Linked DNA regions of Homo sapiens: region 2 is linked to region 1. Evidence: fine-mapped QTL for protein levels in blood plasma. Region 1 holds a variant in brackets. A gene starts in the other region. All regions are shown on their reverse strands.

Region 1 (5,373 bases):
TAGCCAGGAGTGGTGGTGCATGCCTGTAATCCCAGCTACTTGGGAGGCTGAGGCAGGAGAATTGCTTGAACCTGCGAGGCAGAGGTTGCAGTGAGCTGAGATTGTACCACTGCACTCCAGCCTGGGTGACAGAGTGAGACTCTGTCTCAAAAAAAAAAAAAGGCACTGGACATTACAGTGACATACAGCTTTCATCTACCTGACCTCATCTTATTGTTGCAACAGCCCCAGGGATGTAGGTATAAACATTGTCCACATGTTACAGGTAAGGAAATTGAGGCTTAGAGAAGGAAGTGACTCACACTCAGTACACATTGAGGTGTGGCATGTCTTGTCAGCTGGAATAATCAAAAGTTAAGAAACATCTGGGGTGTCTGTCTTTCCACTCTAACTTTCCACCCCAACCTCCCTGTTCTTTCCTTCACACCAGAGGGAGTCAGGAAACTGGTTTTCTGTGTTCTGTGTCTAATGATCAGGGGTTTTCTGCAAACCCTCTATCTATGCAGGGTGGATGATGCCAGGCATGACAGTGGGTGGAAGGACCTCTGAGTACAGCCATCCCTCAGCATCCATGGGTGGTTGGTTCCAGGACTCCTGGCAGATATGAAAACCCAGAGAAGCTCAAATCCTTTATATAAAATGGTATAGTATTTGCATATAGTCTATGCAATCTTCCCACATTCTTTAAGTCATCTCTAAACATCTAATACAATGTAAATAGTTGTGAAACTATATTTTAATTTTTATTTGTATTATTTTCATTGTTGTACTGTTGTTTTATTTTATTTTATTTTTAAGACGGAGTTTCACTCTTGTTGCTCAGTCTAGAGTGTAACGGTGTGATCTTGGCTCACTGCAACCTCCGCCTCCTGGGTTCAAGTGATTCTCCTACCTCAGCCTCCTGACTAGCTAGGATTTACAGGCATGTGCCACCATGCCCGGCTAATTTTGTATTTTTAGTAGAGACGGGGTTTCACCATGTTGGTCAGGCTGGTTTCGAACTCCTGACCTCAGGTGATCTGCCCACCTCAGCCTCCTAAAGTGTTGGGATTACAGGTGTAAGCCACTGTGCCCGGCCTTTGTTGTTATTTTAGAGACAGGTCCTTGCTCTGTCACCCAGGCTGGAGTGCAGTGGCGCTATCATATCTCACTGCAGGCTCACACTCCGGGGCTGAAGCAATCTTCCCACCTCAACCTCCTGAGTAGCTGGGACTACAGGTGCATACCATCAGGCCTGGCTATTTTTATTTTATTTTATGTAGAAAAGGAATCTCACTATGTTGCCCAGGCTGGTCTCAAACTTCTGGGCTCACGTGATCCTCATGCCATGGCCTCCCAGAGGGCTGGGGTTACAGGCATGAGACACTGTGCCCAGCCTCACACCTTCAAGTTTTCTTACCTTGATTCTTGACCCCATCCATCATGTACTAAACTTTCTGTCCCTACCTAGAAATTATTCTTTATTCTGACCTTAAAGGACTCAGGGCCTTGTTTTAAGATGAAAAGTTGTTTTTTTACACTTCCTTTTTATCATTATTTATTCATTCAATCATCTACTTGATAAATATTCATTGAGCATTTATTATGTGCCAGAAACTGATCCAGGTGGTATGGATATAAATGAATAAAGTGAATAAAGAGAAAATACTCTAATCTCATAGAGGAGAGAGATGATAAACAAGTCAATCAACAATATAAAATCTAGCGTCAAGGAATGTCAGTATACTCAGAACACCAACAGTGTGGGATTCTGTTATAACATCAGAAAATGGATGAATACAATATTTATCTCTGCTCCTTTTAGGACAGGACACTTGGGAATCAGGAACAGGAATCAGGGCTGTAAGTTCAGTGAGACAGCATGGTGATGCAGACAGAATCAAAGAAACTTGAGTTTGAATCTTGTATCAGTCAGCTTTTGCTACTTAACAAACACCCCACAAATCTCAGGGGCAACAGAAATGGATTTCTCAATTGTAGATTTGCAGGTGGGTTAGGGCAGCTTTGTTACAGTTACGGTTTTGTTGTCATTTCTCCTTGCTCCGCCTGTTTTCTCATCTGTAAAATAGAGATAAAACTACTTACTTCACAGCATCCAAGTGAAGATGATGCTCAACACTCCCTTCTGATTAAACATACACTCTGCTCAGGGTATGTGAGAAGCTAAATGTTCAACCTCTAGGCCAAATAGTAATCCAAAAAGTGGTCTGGGCTGCAGGCGCTTACTTAAGGAATAAGGAAGGCCATTGGCCAAGCCAATGAGTCTTGTGGTCCCCTCCCAAAATTTAGACTAGAAGAGAGAACCAGTAAGTCAGTAAAAGAGAGAGAGGCACACATCCAGGAAAAAGAAGAGACACTCTTAAAGAAAGAATAAGCAGGCTTAAAGAGCAAGAGATGAGTCAGCCAGTCTGTGGCATCATCTCAGTCCTTGATGTTTCCCTTTCAGTTTTAACCTTTAGCCCTCCCGGTCCTCCTAATAACTCCTAAGCCTTTTCTTAAGGAGTCCTGAGTGAGGCATGTTTCCTCGCAATTGCAAGAACTGAGCTAAGACAGAGAAGATGCATATAAAGTTGCCAGCCCACAGCTTGGCATATAGTAGATCCTCAGTCTACTGTATAGCTGGCAGCTATTGTCCGCTAATCAGGGAGCTGCTTAAGAACACGGACAGGTCTTGTTCACCAGGATTTATCAAAAAGCTTCTCACATACAAGATATTCATCAGATGTTTTTTGGATAAATGACCAAGTGAGTGAATTGCTACATCTGAGCCTCTAAGGGAAAATGTCCAAATGGCATTCATCCAGTTATCCATGCGACAAGTATTTACTGAATGTAAACCTCTGCCAGACCTTGGACAAGGTGCAAGGGATGCAGTTGTGAACACAACAATGTTCTTGCCCTCATGAAACTTACATGTGGCAGAGAAAACAGAAAATAAACAAGTAAAAGAATAAGTGCGTGATGGCAGGTAAGGGAAATGTTACGACAAAAAAATAAAGCAAAGCAAGTGGAAAGAGTAATTGGAGGTGTTATTTTTAGAATTCTTCAAAATGCCTGTGGTGGATGCTGATTCAC[C/T]GTGTGGGCCTCGGTTTGCCTATCTTATAATGCGGGTACTGTTGGACTGAATGATTTGAGAGGACCCTTCTGGGCCTAGTGTTCTTAGTTTCTGTGGTTATGCAAGGCAGTGGCTGGACATTCCACAGCCCCTGGAAACTCTAAGCTGTCATTATCTGTAGCTGGAGAGAGATTTACATAAACTGAGGAAGACCAGAAAGGGTTGGCACCATCCTGGGCGAGAGCCCTATGGCCCAATCCTTTTTCTGTTCTGAAAATAGTAATGTGTTACCTGTTATTAACCATGTGTGAGGAGCTGCTGGGGAGGGGAGTAAGTCAAGACTCTTATGGGGAGGCCCCCTTGATTATAAAAATAGATAACACTTTGATGCTCCGTATTGTGCTAAGCACTGTAGTCTTAACATTTTTATGATGTTAAGAACTATAATGACCCTCAAATTACATGGGGGGACACATGAGAAAACTGAGGCACAGAGAGAAAAAGTGTCTTGCTCCATACCACCAAGATTGCAATCTAGGTCTCTTTAACTTTGAAGACTGTGCTCTTCACCTAAAACTAACATGAGTGAGAAAGGGATGCCTGCCCAAAGAGTGGGACAGATAGAGTCCTAGAAACCTCAAGGCAGGAAGAAATGAGAATTAAAAGAAGAGGATGGAGGATTCCAGGAGAAGGTAGCATTTAAGGTGTCTCTGGATGTACCAGGTGTGCACCTAGCCTTGGTTAACTCCGGCCTAGGAAGTCTGAGAAAAGGGGGAGGGACACCACCTCTGCTATAGGCTGGGTCTGAGCTCATTTTTTAGCTCCATGGGAGGGGGCTGCCTGTTGATGTCCTAGATCATTTCCTTTTGCTTGAAAGGAAGCTAGGGGGAGGATGTAAAGTGTTTGACCAATGCCATCTCTCAGACTCACTCAATCTCAGGTTAGAATATACAGAAAGAGTGCTGGACCCAACATAGGTGAGTATATGTTATGTGTTCACCACTTCACCTTATTCCATTCTCCTAATTAGTTCAAGAGGGAATTATCTCCATTGTAGGGAGGAGCAAAGGGACTCACAAACTTTCCTCCAGTTGGCAAGTCCTGGAAACAGGATTTTAATGAAGAACTTCTGGCTGTAAACACTGTGGGTTTTGTTTGGTTGTTTGGGTTTTTGTACCTCAGCCCCATGCAGGAAATTAGGAACTCCTATTCAGTATTACAAACCTTTGACTACTGCATTTTGTTTTTTGGAGGCCAAAGAAGAACCCAATAAAACTTCTCAAAGAATCTCAGGTTTTGGACAAATTATTTTTAACTCTTTGGGGGTCAGGATCACCCAAAAGGAGGATCCCCCAAACATCCTCTTTTTGTGGATATAAAGAAAGAATCTGAAGTTTCTTGCCCCAAAATAATGTATGCAGAGACACATAACCTAGAGGAGTACTGACCATGCATGTGTCCTCTGCCCCCAGTCATGGAGCCCAGGTTAAAGACCCATACATCCACAAATAATTATATTCAAACATGTTGCATCCCTTTAGAGATTCTCAGAACTTGGGGAAGGGGAAATTATTTCCTTAATTCCAGGAGGTTAAGATAGTTTTATAGAAGAACTTCCATTAACTCTCTAAACGAGCTGTTTTCAGTTTTTGTTTTTGTTTTTTTGCTAGTGTACTCTGTAAATGATTATTTTAAGACTAGGTACTCCTTGACATAATTTTTAGTTGATAGCTTAACATTTTTCATCAAAAGTTTAAATAGTTGCAAAGGTTGTAATTTCTGGCATATTGTAAATTTATACACGTAAAAGTAAAACAATTACATCACTCTTTTAAATGTATCCAGTTAAATTAAATGCCCTAGCAATTCGATACCTACAATCATCCATTTAAAAAATACATGAACAAGCTCTTTTCTAAGAGTCAGACATTTTGCATCATTTCTTTTTCTATTTGAAGTCAAATTTCTACTCCATGTTCCACCACAAAATTTTATCATAATGTGTTTTTTTTTAATGCGTCAGAGGCTTACTGATGACTCTTTTAAAAAGTCCTGCAATAATTTAAACAGCTTCATTAAGGTACAACTGGCATAAAATAAGCTATACATATTTAAAGTATACAATTGACATAAATATATGCTTGCTGTGTTAGGCTGTTTGCGTTACTATAAATATATGAGATTGGGTAATTTATAAAGAAAAGAGGTTTAATTGGCTTACAGTTCTGCAGGCTATACAAGCATGGCTCCAGCATTTGCTTCTGGCGAGGGGCTCAGGAAACTTCCAATCATGGCGGAAGGTAATGGGGTAGCAGACA
Region 2 (5,373 bases), not on the chromosome of region 1:
ATGATCACAGATGCCAGTAGTTTCCAATCCAAAAGCCCTTCTTCCGTGCGGACAGAGTTCTGCTTTTGTCTGTGAACATCCTCCCAGTTCCTTAGGAACTCACTGCAGTGGAAGAGACCATCATTGGCCAATGATGGGTGGTGTACAGGTCTACACAAGGTTTGGAGGCTGACTTTCGAGGTGGTCAGGCTAAACTTCATACAGGCCTTTTGAAGGATGACACAAAAAGGATTAGAGAAAAAGACATTTCTTTTTTTGAGACGGAGTCTTGCTCTGTTGCCCAGGCTAGAGTGCAGTGGCGTGATCTCGGCTCGCTGCAAGCTCTGCCTCCCGGGTTCATGCCATTCTCCTGCCTCAGCCTCCCCGATAGCTGGGACTACAGGCACCCGCCACCACACCCAGCTAATTTTTTGCAATTTTAGTAGAGACGGGGTTTCACCGTGTTAGCCAGGATGGTCTCGATCTCCTGACCTCGTGATCCGACTGCCTCAGCCTCCCAAAGTGCTGGGATTACAGGCGTGAGCCACTGCGCCTGGCCGAGAAAAAGACATTTCTAAGCAGAATGAACAGCATATGCAAATTTAGAGCAACACAGCTTTCCCAGGGAAACAACTCATTTGGCATAACCTGAACTGGGCTGGCCACTTGCAGGCTGTGTGTCTCTGAGCAATTGACTTGGCGTCTCTGAGGATCAGAATTTACATTTATGGGAAAAAAGGAAAAAAGAAAGGAACTACAATAGTTGCGAAATTAGGTAACAGAATATATGTGCAAAACACAGTGCTTGGCATACATTAGGTGCACAAGAAACATTCTTTCTTATTCACCCATTATTGTCACATGGTTCTAATTCGTTATCTTCTGTCACCCAGGTGGCTTTCTTCCCTTTCTCACTCATTCCTGAGCCTAGTAACGAGGCCCCCCAACTTCCACAGACTTTTCCTCAGGCAGGAAACCCGAGCCCACTGCCTGGCCTAGGACAGCTTCTAGGGCTGTGTGGTTTGTGTTATTTCTTCTCTTTTCTCTCTCTCTCCCTCTTTTTTTTCCTAAATGCAACAAAATAAAACCAAACAAAAAGCCCAATGCCTGGCGTGGCTTGTCAGAGAGTTATGCAAGTGTGTAAAAAAATAAAATAAAATAAACATTGAGTTTTCGGCATTTGGGGCTGTTTGATTAGACACAGAGCATAGCCAAGGGCCGGTTAGACGCAGGGAAGGCTCAGGGCAGAGGTGAGAGAGGAGGGACTTGAGTGGGGGTTGGAGGTTGGAGGGGGCCCCTGGACCAACTCGGAAATGACTGTTTGCCTCCTGCAAACTTGGCAATGCTCTGGCTGAATGAACCCAGACACTGGGCATTTCGGACCCAACTGCTCCACTTTCTCTGGCTATCCACCATCCCTGTTCCCTGGCCATTGGGACACTCTAGGGGTCATTACATCCATCCTCCTGTCATTGTAAACGACCCTGTGCCCTTAACTCAATAGTCAGGGCTCCCCCCTTCTCTCCTAAGAGGGAGATTCCACAGCCTGTCTTGATTACTCACCCCCCCTATACACACACACAATCAGTACATCTTTTCTGCTCTAGCTTAACTCCCACTAACTACAGTTTTAGCCCATTTTCCTTTCCCAATCTGAAGTGAAGCTGGAGAACAGCTGTTTGTCACTCTAAGAAGTGAGTCTCCTTCCCTCCCTTCTTCGGGCTTGACTTCAACATCATCTGGGTCACTGCAGGTGTCTGTAGCCGTTCAAGACTCATTCCACAAACATGTATGGGGTTCCCACCATTAACCAGAAGTTTGTAGCCTTCATTTCATTGAACCCTCAGAACAGATGAAGCCTTGCGATTCAGAGAGGTTCAGTAACCTAGGCATGACCACACAGCTGGTAAGTGATAGAGCCAGACATGAATCTAAGTGTTATTGTATGATCTCCCTCACTCTCACCTACCAGCTGCCTCTGGAGGTGTCCTCACCTCGGTGCCCAGGATCTGATAGCCTTGGTATTTCTTCTGAACTGGGAAGATGCACAGAAGATTTGACCCTGAAGGGGGAGAGGGTGTGGTCAAGACCACCAGGCTCTGTGGAGCCTGTTCCTTGTCACTTTCCAGGTTCCTGATGGGGAAACTGGGGTTTTCATGAGGGTCTCCGGCCGCGTTCTGACGCCAAGATGAGCGGAGTTGTTGCGGGTTCTCTGGCTGCGTGGAATCCCCGGGGCGCGGGGAGGGGCAGGGGACAAAAGCAGAAGGTCTGCCCCAGGGTCCTGGGGACTTGTCCCTCCGCCAGCCCCGCGCTCGGAGCGCAGAGCGCCAGCTTCGGGCAAGGACGTGTGGACTCCCGGGCCGGCGCTCCAGTCCATTTTTTCTTGCGGATCCCTGGAAGGGGGGCCGGCTCGCGGGGGGGACTGCGAAGGGGGGGATTCCCTCCCTGGTGCTCGCAGAGGACTGGCCCCTCTCCGGGCTGGGAGCTCCGGCCGAGCGGAGGCGCGACGGAGAGCACCAGCGCAGGGCAGAGAGCCCGGAGCGACCGGCCAGAGTAGGGCATCCGCTCGGGTGCTGCGGAGAACGAGGGCAGCTCCGAGCCGCCCCGGAGGACCGATGCGCCGGGTGGGGCGCTGGCCCCGAGGGCGTGAGCCGTCCGCAGATTGAGCAACTTGGGAACGGGCGGGCGGAGCGCAGGCGAGCCGGGCGCCCAGGACAGTCCCGCAGCGGGCGGGTGAGCGGGCCGCGCCCTCGCCCCTCCCGGGCCTGCCCCCGTCGCGACTGGCAGCACGAAGGTGAGTCCCCTCGTAGCTGCCCCATCCTTCTCCCCAGCGCCCCCTTCCCCGGGAGCTGGGGCGCGGCGGGCCCTCCCGTCGGGGCTGGTTCTAGCTGGGTGCGTGGGGGGAGACAGAAAGGAAGGGGAGTCTGATCGCTCTCCGGTCGGCGATCAGGACAGGGCACCTCCTGCACCCTTCCTGCAAGTCTGCCGCCCCCGTCGGCCCTCAATCCAGCAGGCAGCCTCTTCCCCTCGAACTCCCCTCCATCCCGCAGCCCCGGGTGATCATCCTCACTCGCAGTCCTGAATTCCCCAAGTCCACCAGCCCTGTTTATACCCCGCCTCCAATCCAGAAGTTCTTGATCCTGGGGCTCATTGGCTCGGATTCCCCCAAGTCCCACGGTCTCTGGTGACCCCCACCCCAGTCCGCAGCCTGGGCCTGGGTTCGACGTGGCAGGCGGCATGCGCTGCGGCCCCCGGTGCGCAGCGAAGTGGCGCGGCTCCCTGGCCCTCGGGGTCTGGCGCTCAGGAACCGATGGTATCGCTTAGTTGGGGAGAGGTGGGGGCTATGTTCGCCCGGGACTCCCTGGAGGGCCGGGACAGACTTGGAGTGAGTGTGCTTGGGGGCAGGAGTTTTCTTGTGAAACTGGCCTCTCAGACGTGGACAGCTCTCTTGGCTCTTGAGGGCCAGCCAGGGGAACCTCAGGTCCGCGTCTCCCTCGGCACCTGTTGGGGCCTCTGCGGGATGGTGGGGGAGGGAAGAAGAATGTGCGCGCTTGCGGGGGTGATGGAGGGGTGAAGAAGCCATCCTCCGCTGCCCTTGCTTTTGGAGGGGGGGCACGGCCCCAGCACCTGGCTTGGCTCCGACAGACAGGCTAATCCCGACAGGTCGGACAGGCACATACTTTGTCCCGCCCCCCGCCCGCAATTCTTCTGCCCCCGCCTGCCAGCCTGCTGGGCGGCCAAAACTCTCCAGCCTGTAGCCCGGCCCGGGGAGGGCTAATGCGAAATTATCTAGATAGTTTACATTTTTGGGTCTGTATCGGGCCCCTGATGGAGTACCACTTTATTCTGACGGTATTGCAGGCAAGAAGGTGAAAGTGATTCCAGCCCCCTCCCGGGGCTGAGTTTCTGCCCTCAGCTCCACCTCCAGCTGTGTCCCCCTCCCCGACCTGTATACTCCCCTCCGAGGCCCTTGTGGCCTCTCGCTTTGGTCTCCCTTCTCAGCTCTGCCTCTGCCACCAGCCCCGTCCCCACTTTGCAGGTCCACTCCCCAAGCTGGGTTGTGCCCCACACTCAGCAGCTCCCAGCGGGTTGCCCCGCCCTCCCCACACCCAGTCCTGGGTAGCAAACCTGAGGGCAGGTCCCTAACTGGGTCTGTAACCCCTGGGACACTTAACCATTCAGGGCCAGGTCTCTTCCCCTGTAAAATGGAAATAATTCTACCTTCCTCCTTCCATTGTGAGGAGTAAACGAAGACCTGGCACATGGCAGGTGGAGGGAGGCATCTAACAAGTGTGAATCCCTCACCCCCACAGTGGCAGAGAGAAATGCCCTTTCTTACCCCCACCAATAACCTGAGGCACTGCCAGCAGTCCCCATTCTATCTGTGTAGAGTGAGCCTCAAAAACATAAACTGCCAGTGCCATATAGCCCATGGCTCAAAGGAAATCAGACAGAGGACTCTAAAAGAAATGAAGCAGCCTGCTTAAAAGGGAGTCATCAGCTCATATCTCCTCTCTCAGCCCTAGCCCATGCTGTCCATGTCTGCAAGAGTGCATGCCTGTGTGTGCGCATATGGGGTCAGGGACTAGATGCAGGAATGTGGAGCCACTGAGGCAGGGACCTGTGGCCCTCTGAGGCTTGGTGCTGCAGGGTTCCTAGTCCGAGACCTGTCCAGCATTTCAAATCAGATTTCATGTAAGATCCTGGATTTTCCACTCCTCTTTTAGAAAATCAGAAGATCTTTCAACAATCAGTCAGAGCTGAACGGCATATGCTCCCTTTAGATGGGGCATTTACCCTCCAGTTTACCCCCTCCACATCCAGCTTCAATCATATATGTCATTTGTACCCCCTGGTATAGAGGAACTCTTAGCCCCTTTACAGGGTTGATTCTATATGTACATTTTCAAAAAGTGCTTGCAACTCTTCCCATCCCAGAGGTGGGGGAGGCCAGTGTCACTTGCTTCAGTGAAATTTACATCTGGATCCTCCTTACGATTTTCCAGCTGAGATTGTGGTTTCCTGGTGATTCAGGTGGGAGTGGGCCAGAAGATCACCGCTGGCAAGGACTGGGTGAGTGTGGCAGGGGTCAGCTGAAAACTAGGACCTGGGAGGATTGAGAAGGAATTTAGAGGGAGAGGAGAGGGAGGAAAAAGAAGGGAGCTAACATTTGCCGAGCACTCACCCTCAATTGCCAGGCACCATGACAGGTTGGCACAAGGAATGCAGAGATGCATAGGGGACATTTTGTGCCCCAAAAAACCCCAGGGATATTGATCACGCAGTGAGTCCAAAGTCTTTCAGATCCAGGGTTAACACCAAGTTTGTCTAATGCAGTGTTTGTCAACTGTAAGGACTCATGGAACAGATCTACCAGGGATTCTCAGACCTTAG

Alleles and levels. Positions count from the first base shown, and alleles are read on the strand shown. Strength reflects both the effect of a copy and how common the allele is.
With allele T in place of C in region 1, the plasma level of the protein whose gene starts at base 2,447 in region 2 is lower (weak association).

The links. PIP is the posterior inclusion probability: the model's chance that the variant is causal. The UK Biobank Pharma Proteomics Project read protein levels with antibody pairs (Olink). The fine-mapping took linkage between variants from a reference panel, not from the people measured, so its PIPs are less certain.
Region 2: it holds the start of RSPO1, and the variant in region 1 is fine-mapped to the plasma level of the RSPO1 protein (UK Biobank, PIP above 0.99).

What each region holds. Positions count from the first base shown.
Region 1 is chr20:45,352,455-45,357,827 of GRCh38, reverse strand. No RefSeq gene overlaps it. Among named protein-coding and RNA genes, the nearest start is that of SDC4, 6.7 kb to the right of the region's middle. The variant C/T (reference allele first, on the strand shown) is at 3,076.
Region 2 is chr1:37,631,966-37,637,338 of GRCh38, reverse strand. RSPO1 (R-spondin 1) reads left to right here and starts at 2,447. Exons shown (of 7, transcript NM_001242908.2): 1 at 2,447-2,773; 2 at 4,986-5,052. RefSeq lists enhancers at 2,046-2,572, 2,573-3,100, 3,629-4,156.